Regions from separate parts of the Homo sapiens genome. Here all the other regions are reported to be linked to region 3. The links are microRNA targets in miRTarBase. Many come from high-throughput screens and were not tested one by one. Region 3 holds a microRNA gene; each other region holds the end of a gene's coding sequence.

Region 1 (3,116 bases), not on the chromosome of region 3:
GAGCCAACCTACCTTGTAACTATTAATTTAATTTAAAGCCTTGCTGTTTACTCCATCATTTCTGCCAAATGTAGTCCAAATTGGGTCTCAGCATATTCAAGAAATCAAGCCACAGAAATGTGTACTTGTATTGCTAGGCTCCCTGCAATATTAAAGATTTTGCTTTCTCTGAAGATATTCTGAACCATGATCATCTTTAAGGCACTTCAAATACATTTCTGACCACTAAATTTAAGTAGATACTAATTAATTACTGCCATATTAACAATTCATCACGTAAGCCACAGGAGGCAAGAGTCTCATAAGGAATTGCCTTCACAACCACAGAGATTCCAGAGGTGATCTGAATGAAACACGCACCAATGGCCAGATCCAAAAGGAAAACTACCTAGACTTCCTCAGATAAAAGTCAGGATCTTTAGGAATTAAAACAGGAAGGGACACTATAAAGGAAAAGTGAGGTTTTTTCTTTTTCTTTAACGTACTTCTTTTCTTTGAGCTTCTTGGTCAAATAATTTCAAGGTACATGCTAATAAAAACTACAAATCAGATTTTTGCCTTTAGTGAAGGTGCCTAAAAAGCCAGATGATCTATGACTTTGAGGTGAAACAGCAAAGATAAAGATTTAATGTTCCTGTTATTGTTATAATTAAATACAATGCTGTGGAAGTTAGCATTTCCTCAGAAGTAATTCACAAATATATTTTTATCCTTATCTAACATACAGTGACCATTACTAAATAAGCATTACATGCATGCAGTTTGGCCAAATTATGGAACCTTTTCTGTAATGTGAACTTATTTCAATATAATTCCTGCTTGGCTAGATTCTGATTTGATGTTTAATCAACTTATAAAACCCTAGTGACTGGGAAATGTTAGAAAATTTATCTATAATTGGATCATAAAGTTTTTATATATTTTAAAACCTCTTATTTAGAAAGAGTATCAATAATATCATTTACATATAATTTCTAAAAGAAGAATAGACTTAATTGTTGACAACAATGGGAAGGAATCAAAAGGCAAATTAGGCTGGGTGCGGTGGCTCACGCCTGTAATCCCAGCACTCTGGGAGGCTAAAGCAGGCTGATCACCTGAGGTCAGGAGTTCGAGACCAACCTGGCCAAAATGGTGAAACCCGTCTTTACTAAAAATATAGAAATTAGCTCGGAATGGTGGCGGGTGCCTGTAGTCCCAGCTACTCGGGAGGCTGAGGCAGGAGAATTGCTTGAACCCAAGAGGAGGAGGCTGCAGTGAGCTGAGATCGTGCCACTGCACTCCAGCCTGGGTGACACAGCAAGACGCCATCTCGGGAAAAAAAAAAAAAAAAAGCAAATTAATTATTTTATACTTTAAGACATTTTCAAAGATGGAATCAGACTAATTTGTAGCATATAAATGGTAATGTTTATCCATAATATTTTGGAATTCAGGGGTCTGTGAATCATGTAACCGAATACTAAAGCTATATACACGATATAATTTAAAAGAATGTACACTGTGTACAAGTACACAAAATAGATGTAGAAAAAATAAACAGCAATTTATTGCTATATATTTTAGTATTAACTAAGAATAAGTGGGGTTCTTTTTCTCCTTTGTACAGAGATTTTTCTTTCACTAGGAGCAACAGCAAAACTATCTTTAAAAGGACAAATTTCAAATATAAAAATGGCCTACATGATTTTATAAATTGATTTTTCCTTTAAAGTTTTGATGAAGGCATAATTTTGTGACATTCAAGTAACCTTTAAAACATACTTTTATTCCATCGATACATCTGTCAAGGTTTTGGGGAATCAACCCAACAATGAAGAACTACACATTTTGAACTGGGGTTTTTTTTTGTGATTAAAAAAAAAAAAGAGCTTCTTTTTGCTGCATAAAATAAATCTAAAGGACTGAATTATGGTCTACCTGTACAGCCATTATACATACATACATTAAAGTACTGGACAATAACCTGTCACCTAAGAAGTATAACCGACCGCATTTATGAACAAACGGGGAAAACACATTCTCTAGTTCTAATAAATCATATATTATGTGTATGAAAGCTAGGTTACCAAAAACACATCAACACACACACCTATTTCTGAACCACCAAAAAGCCTCAGGGAAGCTAAAGAAAACACATATTCTTGAGGCAGGCAGGACAGTTGGCTTCCACTTGATGAAGACATGCTTGACTGAGTGATCCTGGGCAAGATGCATGGAGGAAAAAAATCAATGCCACCACCCATTGGCAAAAGAATCACTTTTGTCTAACCTCCTATCATCTTGTAACCTAGAGATGGCCTAAATCTAGACTGAACTTCTGTCTACAGAAATAGCCCTTTAAATAGGCTTTTTTAATAAAAGAGGTCCTAAACTAGGTTCCTCTCCTACTACTAGATAACTATGTTTTAATTTATAAATATATGAATGGGTACCTCTTTTCCAAGCCATTCAATATCTACCAAAATTAAGTAGAATTAAAGCAGTAAAAAAATTGTGATTTTTTAGCTGTATACATTAGGGGGTCACCAGATTTCATATTTTCCCATTTTTAAAAAAATTCAGAATTTCTGTGAATCTTGCTGGAAACGATTTAGTTTCTCTGGATTATTGGATGCCATTTGGGAAAAATCACGAAATATGTCCTGATAAGTTTCATCACCTGCATGAAATAAAATAAAGACACTTTAAACATTTACACAAGTATTAATCAAACAACATTCATATTTATTACTAGTACTATTTTATAATTCATTACATTAAAATTTTGTTCAGATGAGCATTTTTGGAAGAAAAGGGGCAACTAAAAATAAATGCTGAAAAATTATGCAATGAAAGAAAAAAAAAAACTATACCTGAAAAAAGCACCTCAGATGCAGCCACAGAAGAAAGCTCAGAGTTAGAAAAGAGCAAAGATGCAAGTGTTTTAAAGCAATGTAAAGAAATACGTTTATTAACACACGGGGGGGAAAAGTCATTCTAAATGAGGTGGAGTAAATGAGACCTTCTTTAAATAAATATTTCCCTTGATAAAGGCCAAAAGAAATGACTAAAACCAAATACTAATGTTTTGGATGGATGCAAGTTATTAACAAGACAAACTGATAATCAAGACA
Region 2 (3,107 bases), not on the chromosome of region 3:
CCGCTAAAACACATGTACAGGAAAAGAACCAAAATTTAAGAAATGTAGAAGAGAAAGAAGAGTAAAATGATATCAACAGTGTATAATGATGTAAGGAAAGATATCAGAGGAAGCACTGTGAATGTGAAAAAGTGCAGTTAAACAGGACTTGTACTACCTCTTTGAGACTATCTTTGATAAAGAATTTTGAGTCTAGAAGTACAGAGTAATAAATAATTTCTTCAATTTAGAACAGTAATATGAGTTTACTAAAGAATAGGTTTAATACTGGGACCAGACTTTAGAGAGATAAAATGGTGGCTGGGTGCGGTGGCTCACGCCTGTAATCCCAGAAGTTTGGGAGGCCGAGGCGGGCGGATCACGAGGTCAAGAGATGGAGACCATCCTGGGCAACATGGTTAAACCCTGTCTCTACTAAAAAGACAAAAATTAGCTGGGCGTGGTAGCACGGGCCTGTAGACCCAGTTACTCGGGAGGCCGAGGCAGGAGAATCGCTCGAACCCGGGAGGCAGAGGTTGTAGTGAGCCGAGATCGCGCCACTGCACTCCAGCCTGGTGACAGAGCAAGACTCCGTCTCAAAAAAAAAAAAAAAAAAAAGGTAAAATGGTGCAAATCAGCTCCCACAGATAAAGTTCTTGACTCACATGACCTTATTAGGCAACTTCAGATGATACTGTCTTTGAGTAGGAAAGACAAGGACAGTGTAACAGTTATATTAAGAAGTCTAGTACCAGGTCATATAAATAAAACTCTGTTCCGATAATTTACAATTAGAATTCATAGAAATTTGGAATAGAAATTAGAGTCCTTCCAGAAATTAAGAGGCTAAAAATTAGGGTAAAGTAGATAGAGTTATTCAGAATTAAACGTTGGGAGAAGAAAACTGAATTAATTTTACTTGTTATATATGAAGAATGTGAAATAATCCATAAAATATTTTATGACTAGTATCATGAGACAATGTATGCATTATACCAAGGTACTCCTGTGTAAACATTATGTTCTTGGCCAATACTCTGAGGAAGTCCTGAATATACATTACCAGCTGGCTTCATTTCTTAAAAGGGAGACAGATCAAAGACCTCTCGAATCTCTCTCATCATTTTATCTTTTGGACAAACAAATAGAACAGTCAAGTAAATTACCTGAACAAGCATAATAAGTACAAATTTGATTACTGATCACTAAAACCACCAAAAATATATTGACTTAGGGTTCATAATGCATAGTTATCAGTTCAAGCTAAGAAAGCCTTAAGAATTCAATAACTCAAAATCTCTTTGAGATTTAAAGTTAAAAAGTAATATGTTTCTAATAATTTCTAATGTGCAGGATTAATGACAACTGTATTTTGCATTGGCAAATTATCTCAGCCAGAAGAGATTCAAATGATTTTCGTCAATGCCAGTTTATAAACTAGCAGCACATGTCAATGCCAAGCTTGTGAATGGATTGGCTGAGAAAAATTATATGAGTTAGAAGGGATCTAAGTGCTATACTGGTCACTGATTCTATTTCACAAAAGCTACCATTTTTAAAAGCTGAAAATGTAATTGGTGTTGACAAAAACATGTTAAGTTCAATTACTCTGTATAGCTAAATATAGAAAATTGGTTAATGTTTAAAGCAACTTCTTATTTGTTAAGAAGATAATTAAAAATAGTTAAAACTGAACAATTAGCTATACTTTTATATTATTAAAATCCAATGAATTTAACAAATGAAACCCACAGGAAAAGAGATGATATAATTCAAGGCATAGATTTGACATGTCAGAATACGGCAAAAACAATAAAGATAGCATCAGTAAAACAGTTGTAAAATAAGTAAACAATTTTCAAGTGTGCAAAACTAGTCAGGAATAAAAGTGCTATGTGTGGATACCTGGTTTTCAAATATTTGTTTCAAAAACTTTCAGCTGATGGTGGAAAAACTAGAAAGTATTATATAAGTAAAAATTTAAAGAATATATAAAACCTACTTTATTATCTTACATTATGTCCTTGTTATGTCACTGCTGAATCTGAGGCCTATTTAATTACCAGATACAACACAAAAGGAGGTAAACACAGTACATCACAAAGGCTGATTTATCCTGAACCGTAAAAAGGCTCCTTTCAAGTATACTGTGGATTTGTGTTTCATCTTATATCTCAGGCACTCTAGGCTGTTGATGAATTTGAAAACGGACAACATGATTTTCTATAATTTCTAATATACATATTTAGTACATCTTGCAGAACTGCCTTTAGTAGTCAATATTTGGAAGCAATTGTTACAGAAATAAAAACAATTTAAATTCATGAAAGTAAACCCCATCACTGCCACAATTTAAATAATCATTTTAATGTGTAAATCCTGAATATATCATGTTAGAAGATGAAGTCGATGTATTTAGCATAATCTGTCTTGGGATATTTGACGTGTAGATGACTAAAAATACACTTGTGGTCGTTTCTTCACTTTGTATTTTAGTGACCCGTACCGCACCTGAAGAGAGAAATGTTTTATTATTAAGAATTAGATGATTACTTTAAAAAATTACATCAGATTTAATAGTTCATAATCATAGTAATTTTTTTACCTTTTTGATATAAAGAATGAATTCTCTTAATAAATGTATATAAGACAGCACTACTTATAAACTCATAAAAAATGTAGTTGGTAATATTTAGATATATGTTACAGATTATTACTAATAACATAAAAACATTAATCCTATTATTTATGTTTTGCTTAGTACAATGTCAATGAACATTGATTATAATGATCAGAGGCCATTCACAGTCCTCCACTGCTTTCTGGGTATAAAGACAATATGTTATTATGGTTAACTGTTTACTATTTAATCTTCATGTAGCATTAGTTGAAAGCAAAACTGTGTGGTTAATTTTATTCATTGCTTTCTTTGTTTATGCATAGGGCTGGGACTGGGTATTTGAACTATGTGATTTGCTAAATGAGAATGCCATTTTCTACGTATAGCAGAAGATTAAGAGTTTACCATTTTCAAAATTTCCTGATATCCTGATACATTGATCTGAATAAAGAATTTTAAATATAAACTGCTGGCCAGGTGAGGTGGCTCACGCCTGGAATCCCAGCAC
Region 3 (3,116 bases):
TTGGCTTGGTGGGCACCTGCCTCCCCTGCCCTCCTGACCTTGATGGCTAATGCAGCCAGCCCCAGGCAGGCACAGTCACAGCCCTCAAACAACATGAGGCCCAACTCAAGACTCCTGGGTGGTGGTGGTCAAGGTGGGGGACTCTGTAGCCAGTAGAGCACTGTGGGGGCAAGAGACTGACTTGAAGGCTTGGAGCCTCACATGCCCGCCTAGTGGGGTGGTCCTGAGGGATATGACTTCTTTGGGCCTCTCTGCTCATTTTTGGAACCTGACCCGAGAAGGAGCCCATCCAAGACAATGTCCCGCCCTCAGGGAGGGTCTGGCAGTTTTTATCCCTAAAGGCTGGGATTCTCAGCGGAGCATCCTAGGCTGTAGTACCCACGACATCTTGCACACAAGAGGTGGAATCGCCTGTTGATGAAGAGCAAGGCTCTGGAATCTGTGATCTTGGGCCACTCACTTCACTTATCAATCCCTTCGCTTCCTTCTTGCCTGTTACATGGGGTCTGCAATCTACCCCTCAGGGGCGCTGACGAGCTCACATGAGCCTGTGACATAAAACACCTAGCACGGCCCTGGCGCAGTAAGAGCTCAGGAAACGGGCTGCTGCTGTGGTTACTGTGGACCCAGGCGGAAACAGAGCAGCCCCGCCCCTGCCGCAGGCATATAAAAGTGACCACTTGGCCGGTCACGGTGGCTCACGCCTGTAATCCCAGCACTTTGGGAGGCCGAGGCGGGTGGATCACCTGAGGTCAGGAGTTTGAGACCAGCCTGGTCAACATGATGAAACCCTGTCTCTATTAAAATACAAAAAATTAGCTGGGCGTAGTGGCAGGCGCCTGTAATCCCAGCCGCCCAGGAGGCTGAGGCAGGAGAATCACTTGAACCCTGGAGGTGGAGGTTGCGGTGAGCTGAGATCGTACCATTGCACTCCAGCCTGGGCGACAGAGCCAAACTCCGTCTCGAAAAAAAAAAAAAAAGAAAAGGGACCACTCACTTTGGTCTGATTCTTCAGTTCTCATGGTCCTTTTACATCGGTCATTTCATTGCATTCTCCAACAGTGTCTGAGGGAGACTGGTGTCTCATTTTGCAGAGGTGAAAACTGAGGCTTGGCAAGATTAGGTAGCTTGTCCAAGGACACACAGCTGGTGCTTCCAGAGCGAGACCTGGCTTTCTGTACCCAAAGCTCTTGGGTAGTCTCTCCCATCCTGGGATCTTGAGGGTCACGGGAAGGAACTGGGTGGTTTGCAGTGGGACCCTTCACCTAGTGCCTTCTGACCTTGCAGATAAAATACCATGAGGAGTTTGAGAAGAGCCGCATGGGCCCTAGCGGGGGCGAGGGCATGGAGCCAGAGCGTCGGGATTCACAGGACGGCAGCAGCTACCGGCGGCCCCTGGAGCAGCAGCAGCCTCACCACATCCCGACCAGTGCCCCGGGTGAGTGCAGGTCCTGTTGGTGCAGATGACCTGAGGCGAGGCCAGTGGGGTGGGGAGGAAGCCAGGAGAAGACAGACAGACAGATACACCTTCCGGAGCCTTGCTCTTAATCAACAGGCGATTATGCCTCTTGTGTGCAAGAGGGGACCAGAGGACCTGAGGCCGGGCCAGCTGGGGTGGGGAGGAAGTCGGCGAGAGACAGACACACACACACACACACACACACACACACACACACATGCACGCACGCATGCAGGCGAGGAAAAGACTGCTTCCCAAGACCCCAAGTTCCATTCTCATCCAGAATGAGGACGTGAGCACCAGGGTCAGGCCTGTACTGGGCCAAGAGGATTGAAAGGAGAGGCCCCCAGGTCATGGGGCTCAGAGCCCCTGCGTGGGATACAACACACAGGCAAATGTGCACACGTGGACATCAGCCTTTGAGCTGTGGGGCTTGAGCCAGGTTGGGGGCGGGGTGGAAGTGCATGGTATGGACTTCTCGGGAGCTCTGGGAGGGGCTGGGTTTGGCAGGACAGTTTCCAAGCCCTGTCTCCTCCCATCTTCCAGTTTACCAGCAGCCCCAGCAGCAGCCGGTGGCCCAGTCCTATGGTGGCTACAAGGAGCCTGCAGCCCCAGTCTCCATACAGCGCAGCGCCCCAGGTGGTGGCGGGGTGAGTAACCCTGGCCGGAGGGGAGAGGCCAGAGGCAGGGGGTCCTTCGGGAAGGCTTGGACACAGCTCATGGATTCTCCTGACCTTTGCACCCACCCTCTGTTGTGTGTGATGATAAGGATCTCAGCCTTGTGAGCAGAGAGGAAATTGGTTGGCGTAGTGGGCAGAGGCTGGCTGGGACTGGGGCCCTGCGTTCCAGCCCTGGTGTACCATGGGCAGGTTGCTCACCCTGCTTTGGGTGGGGTTTCCTTACCCCAGCTACCTGGGAACACACAAGGCAACTTTCTGCATGGGGCCTTCCAGCACTGGGCGCTGCTCTCCTCGCTTCATGAGGATGGCCCCCACATCCTTCAGCTCTCAGGCTGCCCCTGCCTCTGAGGGGCCTCCCCAGCCATGTCGTGTAAAGCGCATCACCCTGATGCTTTGCATCACTCGACTCCGCTGGCTGCCTTCAGAGCACTTTTTCCAACTAAAAAGAGCTCTTCGTGTTGGTCACCTTCTCTGTGTCCCCTGCTGGGCTGGGGACCCTGGCAGCGTCCGTCTGGTTCACCTACTCTGAGCCAGGCCTAGAGCAAGTGAATAAGCCCAGCAGGAATGGGGTGAGATCAGGCTTCCTGAGCCCTCAGAGCTGAAGTCCCGGCTCTGTAAGTCCTGCCACTCACTCCACCCATGGGTGCCGCTGAGCCACCCTTACCAAGCTCCTGGCAGGCTCAGCGCCTCCAGGCTGGGTGCCTGGGAATTCAAAGTAGCTCACGTAGGAGCAGAACAGATACTTAGAGAGATAAAATCGCCTGAGATAATGGCTGGCTGGAGTCTGATGCTCTGGGCACACAAACAAAGGGATGTTAGGACTGCCCAGGGCACTGTGGGCGCAAGAGTTAGTCTGAAGTATAAGGTTCCAGGCAGCCCAGCCAGTCCCTCCCTCCTCAATGGGTCTGTCCTGGATGTGTAGGGTCCATCTCTGAATATAAAGCCACCTCTCTGCCCTCTGGGGGCTTACATTCCAG
Region 4 (3,116 bases), not on the chromosome of region 3:
GTCGGGGGGTGGGGTGGGGTGAAGAAAACATCAGAGACACCTGTGCTGCGAGTTAAATACATTTCCAGCATCTCACGCATCACAAGCTGCATCAGGAAAGGGCACAGCATGTGGCAGCCTCATCCACACCCACGCAGTGACAGATGTGTTACAGCATGGACACCAAGTCCCCGGGAGCCAAGATGGCAGCTCCAGCATCCCTCCCTTCCTCCCTTCCTCCTTCCCGGGCTGGGCCGGGCCATGCAGAGAAAGGGCAGCCTCTGCCATGGCAGCCCCAAATCACCTCTCAGAGCAACTGTCTGGGGTCCCCAGCCCCAGAACTCCAGCAGAGTCCTGGCCTGGGGAAGCCCCCGTGCCGCCTCAAGCCTCCAGCAGGGCAGGCCCCTGGCCAACTGTGGCATCTGCCTTGACTGCCCAGAGCAGCAGGAATCAGGTTTTGGGAGGACACAAGGCAAGGCAGTCATCTGACACACCCACGGCAGTCCAGCTGGCACTGAGTGTGTGGGCCTCGTCCTGTCTGGAGTCCCCTCCCTCCCACAGTGGGCGAGACGGGAAGGCCTGGCGGTGACCAGACAAGTGGGTCCAGGTCTCAAGGCAGCCTGGCCCATGTCCTGCAAGGCTCTGAAGAGCCACCCAGCTGTTAGTCTGCCCACTGCACAGGGCCCCGGGCCTCTCAGGTTGACAACTAAAGGTGTGTGGGCTGTGGGGCTCTTGCAGATGCTTCCCAAAATCACCAGTCATTTCTACAGACACAGAAATCGAGACACTGAACAGAGAACAAATGGTGTCATTCGATAAAGCTGATGAGTCTGCTTCTCACATGGCACCCAGATCGTAAGGCAGTGGGGTCTGTAAAATCATCGCGGTGGCTGGCCGTGTCCTCATGAGCCAAGCACACTGACTCCCGGGAGTGGTGTGCACGCACATGTGGTGCCTGGACATACACGAAGACACATGGACGTGGGGGTCTGACCTGGACATTCACAACGGAAACGTCTACAACAGAAGGCGCCCAGGACCCACCTTTCTGGCGCATAAATGAAGATTTTTGGCTCAAAAACCTAAGCATCCTCCAGCTTTTGCTACCATCTGTCCCTCGGCTGGCTGAGGACTGCCGATGCTTCCCAAGCAGAGGCGTCTGGTCCACTCCTGGGGCTCCACCTGCCTGTCACTGCAGCACCAGCGTGCACACGATGGAAACCCCACCGATGCCGCTCTCCTCCGCTTGGCCCCGCTGAGCCAGGGTGAGGTGCTGCCACTGCCTTCAGCCTACAGGCTGCTTGCCTGAAGGGGTCTCCACATCTCCACCCCCACAAAGCAATCCAACAGCAGTATGAAGAGACGCAATTCTGCCAATTCTAAGGTCACATTAAAACTTTTCCCCCCAAGATTATGATCACTGCCAGCTGGAGAACCCAACGCCCTTGCACATGCCAAGCTGCATCCTGGCATGATATGGTTTTACAAGATGCTGCGTCATAGAAAGTGACCGTGCCGTTCAAGGAAACGCACATCGGTTGGCTTCCCAAGTTTTCGGGTCTCCGAACCAGTGACAGTCACGTGTCGCTCAGTGACACATGAGAAACGTGTGCTTAGCCGCTGCTGTGTGATCACAGAGTCTTTACACAAGCCTCGATGGTGCATGTAGTTTTATTTATGTGTTTTCATCTGGAAAACCAAGTGTCCCAGCAGCATGACTGAACATCACTCACTTCCCCTACTTGATCTACAAGGCCAACGACGAGAGCCCAGACCAGGATTCCAAACACACTGCACGAGAATATTGTGGATCCGCTGTCAGGTAAGTGTCCGTCACTGACCCAGACGCTGTTACGTGGCACATGACTGTACAGTGCCACGTAACAGCACTGTACTTTTCTCCCATAAACAGTTACCTGCCATGTATCTACATGATTCAGAACATTTTGAACAGTTAATTCTGACACTTGAATAATCCCATCAAAAACCGTAAAATCACTTTGATGTTGTAACGACAACATAGCATCACTTTACGACAGAATCATCTGGAAAAACAGAACAACGAATACATACATCTTAAAAAATGCTGGGGTGGGCCAGGCACAGCTCACGCCTGTAATCCCAGCACTTTGGGAGGCTGAGGCGGGTGGATCACGTAATCCCAGCACTTTGAGGGGCAGAGGTGGACAGATCATGAGGTCAAGAGATCAAGACCATCCTGGTCAAAATGGTGAAACCCCGTCTCTACTAAAAATACAAAAATTAGCTGAGCTTAGTGGCACACACCTGTAGTCCCAGCTACTTGGGAGGCTGAGGCAGGAGAATCGCTTGAACCCAGGAGACACAGGCTGCAGTGACTCGAGATCACGCCACTGCACTCCAGCCTGGCGACAGAGCGAGACTCCATCTCAAAAAAAAAAACCAACAAAAAAACTGGGGTGAAAATCTAACGGATAATTCAGCATTGCCGCATAGAAACCTCCGCAAAACCGGCCAAACAAACGCGGACAGGCGGCCCTGGCGTCAGCGCACGACAGTCACGTGGGGAGGGGCAGTGGCCAGGTCGGCCTTGGACGGGTACACCACCTTCAGGCTCCCTTCCAGATCCACCACCCGGACCTGCTCCACCACCAGAAGGGAGGGCCCGTCCTTTCCAGCACTGGGATTCGTTGTGGGATCTGGAAGTTGTCCAGAGACTGCATCGGCTTCAGTATCTGAGAGTGATCCTTCCTCTTTATTTTCTAAAGTGTACTTTTTCATTTCTGCCATTTTCTGCAAATAAAAAATACCTTTTTAACCTGGAGATGAGAGGTGACCCAGGGAAGACATGCTGCTGTCTGCCAACACAGTAAGCAAAAAAGAGGCAAGCAGGACGGGTGGGAAGTCAAGGAGCAGAGCACCACTCACGCTCAAAAGCGTTTCTCAGGAGGAGCCACCCCACACTCACCAGAATGAGGGCATCCATGACATCCTTGCAAATCTGCAGACTGGTGGCACTTGTTACTTCCAAAAACAAATCAGAAGTCGTTTTCTTAACCTTAAAAGAAAAAAACATTTCAGAAAAGAACAGTTATCAAATGTAGACATCAGCAACTGCAACATTTGTTCTCAGGAAAAATCTACAAAACTGTGTGGCC

What was found. Region 3 holds the annotated microRNA hsa-miR-6779-5p (CUGGGAGGGGCUGGGUUUGGC, at 1,947-1,967, shown strand). A microRNA usually pairs through its seed, bases 2 to 8, with sites in the 3' UTR of a target mRNA and lowers its output. Matches are read on the target gene's strand: a 7mer-m8 pairs with bases 2 to 8, a 7mer-A1 pairs with bases 2 to 7 and ends in A, and an 8mer does both.
Region 1: miRTarBase lists ACAP2 as a target of hsa-miR-6779-5p. Seed matches in the 3' UTR shown: 7mer-m8 at 1,073-1,079.
Region 2: miRTarBase lists REEP3 as a target of hsa-miR-6779-5p. Seed matches in the 3' UTR shown: 7mer-A1 at 870-876 and 8mer at 337-344.
Region 4: the mRNA of LRRC47 is a reported target of hsa-miR-6779-5p. Seed matches in the 3' UTR shown: 8mer at 2,282-2,289, 8mer at 2,109-2,116 and 8mer at 437-444.

The regions. Positions count from the first base shown.
Region 1 is chr3:195,276,767-195,279,882 of GRCh38, forward strand. It overlaps ACAP2 (ArfGAP with coiled-coil, ankyrin repeat and PH domains 2), which reads right to left. Exons shown (of 23, transcript NM_012287.6): 23 at 1-2,662. The coding sequence ends at 2,562. Among named protein-coding and RNA genes, the nearest start is that of XXYLT1, 7.2 kb to the left of the region's middle.
Region 2 is chr10:63,620,196-63,623,302 of GRCh38, reverse strand. REEP3 (receptor accessory protein 3) reads right to left here. Exons shown (of 8, transcript NM_001001330.3): 8 at 1-2,490. The coding sequence ends at 2,434. The region is part of intron 1 of LOC105378329 (a long non-coding RNA gene); the gene reads left to right. Among named protein-coding and RNA genes, the nearest start is that of REEP3, 100 kb to the right of the region's middle.
Region 3 is chr17:38,913,038-38,916,153 of GRCh38, forward strand. MIR6779 (microRNA 6779) reads left to right here and starts at 1,942; the gene lies at 1,942-2,005. LASP1 (LIM and SH3 protein 1) reads left to right here. Exons shown (of 7, transcript NM_006148.4): 5 at 1,288-1,438; 6 at 2,006-2,109.
Region 4 is chr1:3,778,586-3,781,701 of GRCh38, forward strand. LRRC47 (leucine rich repeat containing 47) reads right to left here. Exons shown (of 7, transcript NM_020710.3): 6 at 2,927-3,016; 7 at 1-2,751. The coding sequence ends at 2,503. Among named protein-coding and RNA genes, the nearest start is that of SMIM1, 7.4 kb to the left of the region's middle.